Linked DNA regions of Homo sapiens. The protein of the gene in region 2 interacts with the protein of the main gene of each other region in a biochemical or structural test. Each region holds a gene or a part of one and is shown on either strand. Other genes may lie near its edges.

Region 1 (3,594 bases), on a different chromosome or scaffold from region 2:
CTCGTTCTCGCCTAATCTCACTCTCGATGGATTCACGGATGGCCAGCTTGCAAGCACGCTGGCAAATCTCTGTCAGGTCAGCTCCAGAGAAGCCATTAGTCATTTTAGCCAGGAACTCCAAGTCCACATCCTAAAAGCAGCAGCAGAGGTACCTTAGCATTTAGCCTCTCCTCTCGAGATACGCAGATCTTTGGGCTACCCGAGCACTCCCAACTACAGTTTGCCCCTTCTTTGGCCACCCCATTTTATTCCTGATTCTAGATTATCTTGATATCCTCAAAAATTCTACCTTCCCTTTAGACCAACCCTAACCCCAGTGGAATCTTGTCCAGAAACTAAAGAGCACTCCGTACCAGCCTGAGGACTCATGCAAGTCTCCCACAGCCCATGATCTTGCACCTGCCTTGGCAACTGGGGACTTGCGCAGGTTAGCCTTGAGGATGGCAACACGGGACTTCTCATCAGGAAGTGGGATGTAGATGAGCTGATCAAGACGGCCAGGTCTGAGGATGGCAGGATCAATGATGTCAGGCCGGTTGGTAGCGCCAATGATGAACACATTTTTTTTTGTGGACATGCCATCCATTTCTGTCAGGATCTGGTTGATGACTCGGTCAGCAGCCCCACCACCATCTCCAATGTTACCTCCACGAGCCTTGGCAATCGAATCCAGCTCATCAAAGAATAGCACACAGGGGGCAGCTTGGCGGGCCTGTAGGAGGAATGGATTGATTCAAGCACTAACAAAACTAGATGTCTCTAGGCAAACGTGGTGGCTCACACCTGTATTCCCAGCACTTTGGGAGGCCAAGGTGGGAGGATCACTTGAGGCCAGAAATCCGAAACCAGCATGGGCAACATACTGAGACTTTGTCTCTACAAAAAATAAAAAATTAGCCAGATGTGGTGACGCATGCCTATAGTCCCAGCTACTCAGGAGGCTGAAGTAGGAGAATTGCTTAAGCCCAGGTTTCAAGGTTACAGTGAGCCATGACTGTACCACTGCCCTCCAACCTGGGCAACAGAGCCAGACCCTGTCTCAAGAGAGAGAGAGAGAAAAAAAAAATAACACTAGGTCTCTCAGACCTCAGAAAGAAAATCAAGTGACTTACTGTGCAGTTGAGCAGCCAGCACTAAGAATATTTCAACCCTCTTAAAGAAAAACAGCCTCTATTCCTTGCCCTCAGGCAAATCAATACATAGTTCAGCCTATTGTAGCTCACCTTGTCAAAGATTTCTCTGACATTGGCCTCAGACTCCCCAAACCACATGGTGAGCAGCTCAGGACCCTTGATGGAGATGAAGTTGGCCTGGCATTCATTAGCAATGGCTTTGGCCAACAAAGTTTTCCCACAGCCAGGAGGTCCATAGAACAGAACTCCCTTGGAAGGTGTCATGCCAAACTTCAGGAATTTGTCTGGGTGCTCCACAGGATACTAGGAGGAAAAGGAAAGAGGGTTCAAGGCTACCTCCACATTTTGAAAGAAACCTAACTAAACAGAAGCATCCCCTCCATTATTTCATGGTGTACCCAATGGTATCAGATCCAGGTTCTCTAGAAGAAGACTCCTTAGTGCCTCAAACCTAAGAACAGTAGGTTCCTAAGTCGTGCTCTCACAACTCTTGCAGCAAATGTGTTGACACCCTGAGATCACCCAGATCAATTACAATGTACTGAGACAGTGACTCACCCTGGACCAAGTTGCCCTACCTGGACCAGCTCCTGTAGCTCACGTTTGACATCCTCTAGGCCCCCGATGTCTTCCCAGGTTACCTGTGGCACCTCTACCACGGTTTCCCGCAGTGCTGATGGGTTACTCTGGCTCAAGGCCCACTAGAAAAGGAGGGAAAACTGGGGATGAGACTTATCAAGGGAGGGGTCAAAGCACGTATGTGTGTACCTGAGGCACGGGTGTGGTCCTTACCCGGAAGTCATCCATAGTAACTGCTAGAGAGTTCATGACCTCGGCATCAATGGTCTCATCCTCTAGGTCAATGAGATCCATCTTCTTGCGGATGGCTTGCAGAGCAGCCTCTGAGCACAGGGCTGCTAAGTCAGCACCCACATGCCCGTGAGTCTCATTGGCTACCTGCAGAGAAAGATCTACTTACTATGCTGCCTCAAAGACCCAGCTGCTGCAGGAGGCTCAGAGACAATAGAATCCTTCCCCTGACTGCTATCCCTGGGTCCTCTCATTTCCTTGAATATATACTATCAATACCTTTATGGGCTGGGTTTTAAGTACTTAATTCTGGACTTGGGACCTAGAAATAAGGCTGCTCCAACAATTCTGATTTACTCTAAATGCAGCGTCAACTATGAAAAATGCCAACTCCCATTTCCTGGATTCAATCTCAGATTACTTCCTTTCCCCTGTCCAGAAATCAAAACCCATCTCCTCACATCTTAACCTTATGTCTCTAGCCAGTTCCCAGCAACTGCCTAGAGACACTGTAACGCCTGGTCAGCCATCATCATCACTTCACCTGTTCCAGGTCCACATCATCTGCCAGCTTCATGTTCTTGGTATGGATCTGAAGAATCTCTAAGCGTCCTGTAGCATCAGGAATTCCAATATCTACCTCCCTGTCAAAGCGACCTGTGGGACAGTACACAAACATAAACAGGGCTCATCTCTAGTCCAGAGGTAAGAGACAGGCCTAGGGTGACCAACCATCTCAGCCAGCACAGGATTGTCCTAATGCCAGCACTAAAAAAGTCTCAAGCTCTGGGAAACCTTTCAGTCTCAGGAAAACCAGGGTGGTTGGTCACTCTAGACAGGACGTAGGGTAAAGGAAAAAGACCCCTGGACCCAATCACTGTGAAGGGCTTCAAGAGGATTAGGTGACTTAGATGAAGGAGAGAAGTAGGACCTAAGCAAGGACGGGGTCAAAAGTATCTGGAGTCCTTACCAAATCGCCGTAGAGCTGGGTCAATGCTGTTGGGTCTGTTGGTTGCTGCCATAACAATCACATGTGCCCTCTGCTTTAGGCCATCCATGAGGGTCAACAACTGTGATACAATGCGCCGCTCCACCTCGCCATGAGTCTGCCAGAACAGGATGTCTGGTCAGAAGTGAAGTCAGGGCCTTTCAACCCCCCTCTATCCCCTCAGGTAAGCTCCTACTTTCTCTCTTTTGGGAGCGATGGCATCTAGCTCATCAATGAAGATGATGGCAGGAGCATTCTTCTCAGCCTCCTCAAAGGCTTTACGAAGGTTGCTCTCAGACTCACCAGCCAATTTGCTCATGATCTCAGGACCTGAAAGGATACAGAATGGAGACAATAACAAAATGATAGTCTTTCCCAATTCCTCCCAAAAATCAGTTATCTTGCTTGTTTGGCCCAGAGACAGGTCCTGGGTGAGAAGGTGGTAACCTCTGCCTACTTCTCACATCCTCTACCAGCCATTATCCCAGGACAGCCACCAGGCAAGGCTGGAGAGAAGCCCAGGGACTCACTATACTCTTCTCACAGTTGAACTGTAAAGGTGACAGCAAATGCTCTAGGACCTCTGGCTAGAGCAAGAGAGATGGCACACCAGATGGCACACCACTAAACAGCATTCTCCAAGAGCCAGTGATCAAAGTTCAT
Region 2 (3,594 bases):
AAACCCCAGCAATCTTAAATGCTTTTGTTAATTTTGCACAGAAACTTGTGCATCTTTGGTGTGGAATGAGCAGTAGGTTTTAGTGTTTGTTTCAAGTTTTCATGATTTCTGAATCAAAACCCAAAAGCTGTAGAAAGCTATACACAAAGATGTCTTGTTCAGTGTCCTCCTCTATCTTGAACTCCTTACTTGCTGTAGGAGCTGTTAGTTTCTTTTCATTTTTCTGTTTTGCAAATATTTCTATTCATTTTTATTCCTCCTCCCCACCATACAAAATTTTTCTTACACAAAATACTATGTACATTCTTCTGTACTTTGTCTTTTTCTTTTTCTTTTCTTTTCTTTTCTTTCTTTCTTTCTTTGTTTCTTTCTTTTTTTTTTGTTGCCCAGGCTGGAGTGCAATGGCATGATCTCGGCTCACTGCAACCTCTGCCTCCCAGGTTCAGGTGATTCTCCTGCCTCTGCCTCAGCCTCCCGAGTAGCTGGGATTACAGGCGCCCGCCACCATGCCTGGCTAATTTTTGTGTGTTTAGTAGAGACGGGGTTTTACCATGTGGGCCAGGCTGGTCTTGAACTCCTGACCTCAGGTGATCCACCTGCCTCGGCCTCCCAAAGTGCGGGGATTACAGGCATGAGCCACTGTGCCCAGCCCCCTGTCTTTTTCATTAATACGCTCTATAGCTTTCTCCAAACCATTTCATGTAGATCCTTCTCATTCTTTTTTGTGGCTGCATAGAATTCCATTATATGGATGTATAAAACACTGGAGTTATTTCTAATCTTTTGCTGTTATAAGCAGTGTCACAGTGAATACACCTTGTGCATATGACCTTGCATGCTAGTCTAGGTATTGCTCTCTCAGAAGACAAATGCATTTGTAATTTTGTTAGATGCTACCAAATTTTCCATAGGAGAATTGCACTCCCACCAGCAGTATATAGGAATGTTTATTTTCCCTTAGCTTTACTAATGGTGTCAAACTTTAGGAGTTTTACCAATCTTGATAAGCAATAAATAACATCCTAGTGTAGTGTTGGGTTTTTGTGGGGGTTTTTTGTTTTTTGAGACAGGGTCTTGCTGGGTTGTCCAGGCTGGAGGTAATCATAGCTCACTGCAACCTTGAATTCATGGCCTCAAGTGATCCTCCCATCTCCGCCTCCTGAGTAGCTAGGACTACAGATGCACAAGCTAATTGTTTTATTTTTATTTTTATTTTTTTGTAGAGACAAGGTCTCACTATGTTGACCAGGCTGGTTTTGAACTCCTGGCCTCGAGCAATCCTCCCACCTCAGCCTCCCAAAGTGCTGGGATTACAGACATGAGCCACCACGCCTGACCATCCTAGTGTAGTATTAATTCGCATTTCTCTTTTTATAAATAAAGTTGGGCATTTTTTCTTTTCTTTTCTTTTTTTTTTTTTTTTTTTTTTTTGAGATGGAGTCTTGGTCTGTCATCAGGCTGGAGTGCAGTGGTGCATTCTCGGCTCACTGCAACCTCTGCCTCCCAGGTTCAAGCAATTCCCCTGCCTCAGCCTCCTGAGTATACTGCTCGGACTACAGGCGGGCGCAACTATGCCCAGCCAAAATTTTTTTTTTTTTTTTTTGTATTTTAGTAGAGACAGGGTTTCACCATGTTGAGCAGGATGGTCTCAATGTCCTGACCTCGTGATCCGGAAGTTGGGCGTTTTTTCATTTGTTTGTGGGTCATTTATACTTCTTCTGTGAACTCCATGGTCTTTGCCCATTTTGAAATTGGGTTGTCATTCCCTGTTGACATTAGGAGCTCCTTGTATATTAGGAATAGCCTGTGATAAGAGTTATACATATATTTTTCTGAGTTTGTCTTTTTACTTGGTGTTTTTTTCCTATAGAATTTTAAAGTTTTGTCTGGGTGCAGTGGCTGACGCCTATAATCCCAGCACTTTGGGAGGCTGAGGCGGGCAGATTGCTTGAGGTCAGGAGTTTAAGACCATCCTTGCCAATATGGCCAAACCCCATCTCTACTAAAATACAAAAATTAGCCAGGCATGGTGGTGCACACCTGTAGTGCCAGCTACTCAGGAGGCTGAGGCACGAGAATCACTTGGACCGAGGAGGCAGAGCTTGCAGTGAGGAGAGATTGAGCCACTGCACTCCAGCCTGGGCAACAGAGTAAGACCCTGTCTCAAAAAAAAAAGAATTTTAAAGTTTTTATGTAGTTGAATTCATTGATTTTTCTGGATTTTGATATATAGTCAAAAAGGTCTTCCTAGAACAGGGAGTTCTTAACCTGTGATTTTCAGAGCTTTAGATGTTACACAAATTTGAGTACCCCTTCTCTGAAATGCCTGGGACTAGAAGTGTCTTGGATTTCAGATTTATTTGGATTTTGGAATATTTGTGTTATTCTTACAGGTGGAGCATCCCAAATCTGAAAATCCGCAATGCTCCAATGAGCATTTCCTTTTGAGTGTCATGTCATTGCTCAAGAGTTTCTGATTTTGGAGCATTTTGGATTTTCAGAGTTGGGATGCTCAACTCATATGCAATATTTTGTGAATGAGTGCTTATATAATTTTTATAGAATGAGGTGGGTTTTTTGTTGTTGTTGTTTTGTTTTTGTGAGACAGTGTCTCATTCTGTCCCCCAGGCTGGAGTGCAGTGGCACAATCACAGCTCACTGCAGCGTCAACCTCCCCAGGCTCAGAGGATCCTCCCACCTCAGCCTCCTGAGTGTAGCTGGGATTACAGGCATGCACCACCACACCTGGCTAATTTTTGTATTTTTTTGTAGAGACAGGGTTTCGCCATGTTGCCCAGGTTGGTCTCCAACCCCTGGGCTCAAGTGACCCTCCCACCTTTGCCTCCCAAAGTGTTGGGATTACAGGTGTGAGCCACTGCACCCGGCCTAGAATGAGTTTTATCAGTTCTGAAGGAAGCCTGTGATACAGAAAAGGTTAGACACCAGATAGAATAAGAAAATTTATATTTTCCAAAGTGTCATACAGACTCTAAAACTAATTTGAATATTTTATGTTCCAGACCCTCCTGCATGAAATGATACATGCCTATTTATTTGTCACTAATAACGACAAAGACCGAGAAGGGCATGGTCCAGAATTTTGTAAACATATGCATCGCATCAACAGCCTGACTGGAGCCAATATAACGGTATAGAAAGCCATATCTATTTATGATGTTTAGTAGTTGTTTATTCAATAACTCCTGAGATTTAATTAAAAGTAGAGAACTAGGTAGAAACAAGTATCTTTGAGGATTTTCCACAGCGAACGAGAGGCCTAGAGAAGCAAATTGGCTTGTCTGGGACTACATGGTGGAATGGCAGCAGAGCCAGTGATATCCCTGAGGCCTCTGACCTCTTCTGAGTCAACATTTTACACACAGGTAATTCAGGCCTGCAGTACGTCACTTCTGGAATCATCATGATCTCTTAACTTTGTTTCCTTATTATTGTCTTTTTTAGTCCATCCTGTATCCTGCTACCATTGCAGATGTCATTCCCTCATCAGAATTCTTCTTTGATTCATATCTCTGTATAGCATTGTAGGAGATAGCAAAGCCTCAGGTTCAAAAAGCTGGAGGCGTCAGGCTGCTT
Region 3 (3,500 bases), on a different chromosome or scaffold from region 2:
GTTCACAACTCAGTTGCACAAGTACTTTTTCCTTGAGACAGTCGTCCTTAAGTAGAAGTTGGTATGCAGCAGAAGTGGCTTATATGTAATCTTCATTTTTTTCACACAATTAGAAAAGGCCAATATTTAATAAAAGTAATCATTTTTTACTGTTTCCTCAAGGAATTCTTAAGTGAGCTGACTTTTAAACAAATTTTAGATGTGAAATCAGTGACAACTATTGCATCTTGATGTCATTACCTTAATTCATTCTAAAGCACCAGCAGTCTTACCCCTATGGCATCAATTCAAGTGTTAATACAATTTTTTTTTTAAAAAAAGTATTAGTATTATCATTAGGAAAATAGTTTTGACCCTGTGTACTCTCTGTAAAGGTCTCAGGACCCACATAGGGGCCCGTGGACCATGCTTTGAGTGCCACTCTTTTAGTTTACCATTGCTTCTTTTGCACATGAGTGTCACTTTTAATTAATACAGGCTCTTAAAGGACCTTATAGTATAGGGGTTAAAAGACATGGACTGTAGAGTCACTTAGGTCTGGGTTTGAACTCTGGTTTCTCCACTTAGTAATTATGGAGGCTAACTTAATTATGTCTAAGCCTTTGAAATGTTTAACAATGCCTAGCATAAAGTACATGCAGAGTAAATGGAACCTCTTACTATTTCTGCCAACTTACATAGTCATACATTGCATCCAAGTAAACCCCTATGTTCCATATCAGAATAACATTTTGCTTACAAAATTCCTCTTGTACCTCTGTGTGCCATAATCCAAACCACATCATACAAATTTGGGAAGGCTTCTTATTCCCCTTATTTAACAGTCACCTGAAAACCTACTTTCTCCCACATACTTCAGCCAAATTGTCACATACATACTAGTTTATGACTTCATTTCTTTAATCCTATGTTTTAAGTGGGTTACTAAATGCTTTATGTAGATTTTGTCACTGTTTTCTCAAAACATTGTAAATATAATCAGAAAACAACTATAATTCACACTATTTAGTACCCAGAATGAAAATGATTTAAGGTCATAGATATTTGTTGGTAATACAAGATTAAGTTGATTATTAAAGATGCTAAACTTTCCCAGGCACAGTGGCTCATGCCTGTAATCCTATTGCTTTGAGAGGCTGAGGCAGGAGGATTGCTTGATACTGGGAGTTTGAGACCATCCTAGGCAATATGGTGAGACCTTGTCTCTACAAAAAAATAAAAATAAAAAATTTAGCTGGATGTGGTGGCACACACCTGTAGTCATACCTATTTAGGAGGCTGAGGCAGGAGGATCGCTTGAGCCCAGAAAGTGGAGGCTGCAATGAACTATGACCATGCCACTGCACTCCAGCCTGGGTGACAAGAATGAGGTCTCATCTCAGATAGATAGAAATTTTTAAATGCTGACTTATTTTCTATTACTGTTTATTTACTATTCGGACAAAATTTAGTCACCTGTCATTTTTTCCCTAAATTTTTATTTACTTTAAACTTAATGTAAATTAGATTTTAACTAATGATGTATTTTGACAAACATGGAATTTCATGAATTTTTTTACTAACAAAAGTCGGAATCCTAAGATAGTATGTTTTTTACTAGTTCAGTGATGGACATATTGTCTAATATTAGAAGGTAAATCATAGTCTATCTCAGTGTCCTGTTCTTTAATAAAAACTTTAGTTTGCACATATCTACTCTTTATGTTTTTTAAAGTATGTCTTTCTGGACCCTTGAGGTAAGTGTTACATAAATTTATTTAGTTGAGTAGTTTTATCCCGAAAGACCTATGTTAAGTGGTCTCTGCTTGGTTGTATTAAATGGCCCTGTCCTGTTTGCCACCTGTTCTTCCTCTTCACACTGGCTTTTTAGCCACTTTAAGCTGTTACTGGTCCAGAAAAACAAGCAAGATAATACCTTAAGGTTTTCAAATAATTGTTAACATCACTCCTTGTTCTTTAGTAGGTGTGAAACCCAAATATTCTCCAGCTCTTTTTAAAATAGTGCAGAGGATTTGGTTCCTTGAGGCCGGGAGTTTGAGACCATCCTAGGCAGTATAGTGAGACCTCATCTCTACAAAAAATAAAAAATTTAGCTGGGTGTGGTGGCACACACCTATAGTCCTACCTATTTAGGGTAGGTTTGGTTCCTTATTTCACTTTTGAATATTATGTGGAGATGTTCATTTTACTACAGATATATCTATAGAATTGGGTTCATTGTTGATCAGCTGTTTCAGACACCTTAAATTTGTTCACGTTTTTTCTCTTAATGTTGTGAATAATTTTTCCCAATTCCCTTTTTATTCTCCAGCTTTAAAACAATGACAGTACAGGTTGAGCGTCCAAATCCAAAAATCTGAAATCCACAATGCTCCAAAATCTGAAACTTTAAGCACCTACGTGATGCTTAAAGGAAACACTCATTGGAGCATACCAGATTTTGGATTAGGGATGCTCAGTCTCTAAGTATTATGCAAACATTCTAAAATCCAAAAAAATCCAAAATCTGAAACACTTGTGTTCCCAAGCATTTCACATAAGGGATACTCAATGATGAAAAGTTTAATTAAGACCAATAAACAAATAAAAAATAGGATCCGCCTCATTAGTCATTAGGGAAACACAGCTCTAAAGCATGATGAGATACCACTTTACACCCACTAGGATGGCAGTATATAAAAAGAAAATAACAGGTGTTGGTGAGGATGTGGAGAAAGTGGAACCCTCATACATGCCTGATGGGAATGTAAAATGGTACGGCTGCTTTGGAATGCAGTTTGGCAGTTCCTCAAAAAGTTAAACAGTTAACATGTGACCCAGCAGTTCTACTAATTAGATATAAATCCAGGAGAATTGCAAACATAATGTCTGCACAAAAACTTGTAAATGAGTGTTCATAGCAGCATTATCCATAACAGCCAAAAGAGGGAAACAACTTGGCTGGGCGCAGTGGCTCACGCCTGTAATCCCAAGCACTTTGGGAGGCCAAGGCGGGCCGGATCACCTGAGGTTGGGAGTTGGGAAACCAGCACTACCAACATGGAGAAACCCCGTCTCTACTAAAAATACAAAATTAGCCAGGCATGGTGGCGCATGCCTGTGATCCCAGCTACCTGGGAGGCTGAGGCAGGAGAATCACTTGAACCCAGGAGGTGGAGGTTGCAGTGAGCTGAGATCGGGCCATTACACTCCAGCCTGGGCAACAAAAGCAAAACTCCTTCTCAAAAATAATAAATAAATATAAATAATTTAAATAAATAAAATAAAAGAAGGAAACAACCCAAATACCCATTAACTGATGAATGCACAAAGTATGGTATATGCATACAATGGAGTATTGTTCCGCTATAAAATGAAGTATAATAGTTCACCCTTATCTGCAGTTTTAGTTACCTGCAGTCAACTGTGATCAGAAACTAGGTGAATATGTGATACAACAAGATATTAATATTTAGAGAGAAAGAGATCCCACATTCACATGACTTTTCTTACAATATATT
Region 4 (3,004 bases), on a different chromosome or scaffold from region 2:
TGTCCCCAAACCACAAATTTGCCCACATGGATGCATCCGTCCCACGTGCTCCATTTCCACATTGCCTGTAGGGCAGCTCATGTCTGCAGATTGAGTAGCAGTCCTGGGTCCAGACAAGCCAAGCACCCACTCCAGGGACCGACTCGGGTAGCACATGAGGTATACTGACCTCCTGACAAGCCCTGAGCAATTCTGTGACCTCTGTACCTCAGTATCCCCATCCGAAACTGGAGATGACAACTCTTGCATGAGATTGTTGTGAGGATTACGTATCAATATTTGGAAAATATTTTGGAAAAAACTGGGCATGCCATTGGTGCTTGGAATCGTGCCTGGCACACAGAGGGTGCTTTCAAAGCACTTAGAACAGCAGTACCCAGCCCACAGCTGGTGCTCACTAACCACTCAGAGCTGCACCCATCACACATCTGGCCTTTGATAAGAACACAGAACACAGGCACAAAACTGGTGCTTAGTTAAGTCCATGGAGGAAAAAACCACACTGCTGAGTGGGGAGCAGACTGGTGCTTTATATATACACACACACAGCAGAAGGTACAGGGCCTCAATAAGAAAATACACTCTGTGTTCAGGTGAACCCCCATCACCACCCACGCAGAACACTCTGGGCTGAGGAGAGGGAAGGGCACGACCATAAATAAAGACTAGAAGGGAGGGTCACTGCTGGAAGGGCAAACACAGGCGGGGCGCGCACTGCTAGGAGGAGACACGACCTGTTCTTTCCCGGGAGAGAGCGATGCAGCGGCACAGGAGAACAGTAGCCACGACTAAGCCTGCAATGCCTGGCGGGGGCACCTAACACGAATAAGAGAAGCGGGGCGGACACGAGAAGCGAGATTGCAGAGAGGGCTTTTTTTTTTTTTTTTCTGTGGCAGGACCCAGGGCTCTCAATTAACATCCATGAACTCAGAGCTGGGTGGGGAGCTGCAGGCAGGGGAGGCTGGGGCGCCAGATGAGCCGGCCGGGGACAGCAGGCGTCGCGCCACGTCCTGGCGTTGGTAGAAGAGGACATAGGCTGCCTTGGACTGTGGGGAGAGGACAGGAGTCAGTGTGGATTGTGGGGGTGGGGAGGTGGAATCAGAAAGGAAGAAGGGGAGGAGGTAGGATGGAAGTCACACCTCGATCTGATTCTCATTGACAGGGGAGACGCTGTTGTCATCAAAGTAGTGCCACTGGCCGCTGTCCTTGTTGCAGGCAAATGTTGTGTCTGAAAGGGAAGGAGAGTTATCCTCGCCTACCCTTCCTGCCTCTCAGAAGTGTCCAGATTCACTCTTGTCACTCCTCCCACCACGATAACCTCACCACTGGCTCACATCCCTAGTCACTCACTGGGAAGGTCCTGATCGCCCCCCTGCCCAGAACCCCCAGGGCAGGCCCCACCCACAGCCTGGCACATACAGTGTCCATCACGCATGCCCCCATAATGGTTGGAAACCGCGATGAGGTCATATTTGTACAGCTCCGGATTCGACTCATTCTGTGGCTGGATGACAAACTCAGAGAAGTCCAGGTCCCTGTGGGTGGGGAGAGGGTTAATACTGGTACACCCCCTCCTTTCCCTGCCTTCCCCCAGCCATCCTCTCCCTGGCCCCTGACCGGATAGGAAACTCCACGAGGGTGTCCAGCTTCTCTCGGGAGAACTTGGTGTAGGAAAAGCGTTTCAGGTGGATGATGAGAATCTCCGGCAGCATCCACAGGTCCAGCTTCTTGGTTGCCAGCTGGTGCTGCTTGCAGGAAGGGCAGTACCTACAGACAGAGCCCGAGTCAGCAAACGGACTTTTTCTTTTTTTTTTTTTTGAGACAGAGAATCGCTCTGTTGCCCAGGCTGGAGTACAGTGGCGCGATCTCGGATCACTGCAGCCTCCACCTCCTGGGTTCAAGCGATTCTCCTGCCTCAGCCTCCCGAGTAGCTGGAATTACAGGCATGCACCACCATGCCCTGCTAATTTGTGTATTTTTAATAGAGACAGGGTTTCACCATGTTGGCCAGGCTGGCCTTGAATTCCTGACCTCAGGTGATCCACCCGTGTCGGCCTCCCAAGGTACTCGGATGACAGGCATGAGCCACAATGCCCAGCCAAAACAGACTTTTTCTGAGCACCTACTGTGCGCCCTTTGTACTGCCTCTCACGTGCCATGTCTGGCTCACAGAAACACTGCTCTTACTATTAGCCCATCTAGTATTCTAGTTTGCTCTGTTCCTGTTAAAATCCTTTCACTCACTCGTCAAGTGCTTACTATCTTTTGTATATGTGCTCATACTATTTTTTGTATTTTTGTTTGATTTCTGTTCCATGAGATGCTAGTCTTATTTTAGAGCCCACCTCTATCCTTCTAGTTTCCTCTCTTCGTATTTTAGTCATTCATTCACTCCCCAGTATTTATTGATTGCTTGTTTAACCCTTTGGAACTATTTTGTATTTCTGTTCCATTTCTGCTCCACGGACATGCTGCTCTTATTTCTGAGACTAGGGAGTGTGGTTTTGGTTCTCTTTTTGTTTATTCTGCAAGTGTCTACTGAGCATCAACCGAACACTCAACACTATTATAAACAGGTAGAAGCAACACACAGTGAACTTAAGTCTTCACCCTCGAGGAGTTGACTCTAACGAAGATGACAAATAACACAAAAGTGGATACAGGACATCACATCAAGTGGCATCGCTGAGCTAGAAAGTAATGCTTGGCTAGGAAGAAAAGAGCAGAGAGGGGATGGAGAGGGATGGTGGGGAAGGGTGATTTTTAACAGGGTAGTCAGAGGAGGTCTCTCTGATGAGGTCACATTTGATCGGAGACCTGAGCATCGTAAGGAGTGAAGTCCTGTAGATCACTGGGAACAACATTCCTGGAGAAGGAACAGCACAGGCCAAGGCTCTGGGGTAGGAGTCTGCTCAGGAGATTGGTGGCCAGGTTGGCAAGAAGGGTTTGAGTGTGGAGGAGGGAGGAGGAAGGTATACTTAAAGAGCTAAATATAGGCCAGGTG

Evidence for each region.
Region 1: the proteins of SPRTN (region 2) and VCP form a complex in vitro, tested with the Homo sapiens proteins (2 studies listed by BioGRID).
Region 3: the proteins of SPRTN (region 2) and KPNA4 interact in a test that uses a peptide from one of them, tested with the Homo sapiens proteins (one study listed by BioGRID).
Region 4: of the proteins of SPRTN (region 2) and USP11, one has a biochemical effect on the other in vitro, tested with the Homo sapiens proteins (one study listed by BioGRID).

Annotation. Positions count from the first base shown.
Region 1 is NC_000009.12:35,059,090-35,062,683, forward strand, and holds part of VCP (transitional endoplasmic reticulum ATPase), read right to left. Parts: intron 3,262-3,594; coding exon 3,128-3,261; intron 3,050-3,127; coding exon 2,914-3,049; intron 2,601-2,913; coding exon 2,488-2,600; intron 2,091-2,487; coding exon 1,926-2,090; intron 1,835-1,925; coding exon 1,712-1,834; intron 1,437-1,711; coding exon 1,224-1,436; intron 713-1,223; coding exon 404-712; intron 131-403; coding exon 1-130. UniProt on the Homo sapiens protein: Necessary for the fragmentation of Golgi stacks during mitosis and for their reassembly after mitosis. Involved in the formation of the transitional endoplasmic reticulum (tER).
Region 2 is NC_000001.11:231,344,777-231,348,370, forward strand, and holds part of SPRTN (DNA-dependent metalloprotease SPRTN), read left to right. Parts: intron 1-3,020; coding exon 3,021-3,149; intron 3,150-3,594. UniProt on the Homo sapiens protein: DNA-dependent metalloendopeptidase that mediates the proteolytic cleavage of covalent DNA-protein cross-links (DPCs) during DNA synthesis, thereby playing a key role in maintaining genomic integrity.
Region 3 is NC_000003.12:160,555,572-160,559,071, reverse strand, and holds part of KPNA4 (importin subunit alpha-3), read left to right. Parts: intron 1-3,500. UniProt on the Homo sapiens protein: Functions in nuclear protein import as an adapter protein for nuclear receptor KPNB1. Binds specifically and directly to substrates containing either a simple or bipartite NLS motif.
Region 4 is NC_000023.11:47,245,835-47,248,838, reverse strand, and holds the end of USP11 (ubiquitin carboxyl-terminal hydrolase 11), read right to left. Parts: intron 1,768-3,004; coding exon 1,618-1,767; intron 1,536-1,617; coding exon 1,420-1,535; intron 1,229-1,419; coding exon 1,140-1,228; intron 1,047-1,139; coding exon 909-1,046; 3' UTR 511-908; downstream 1-510.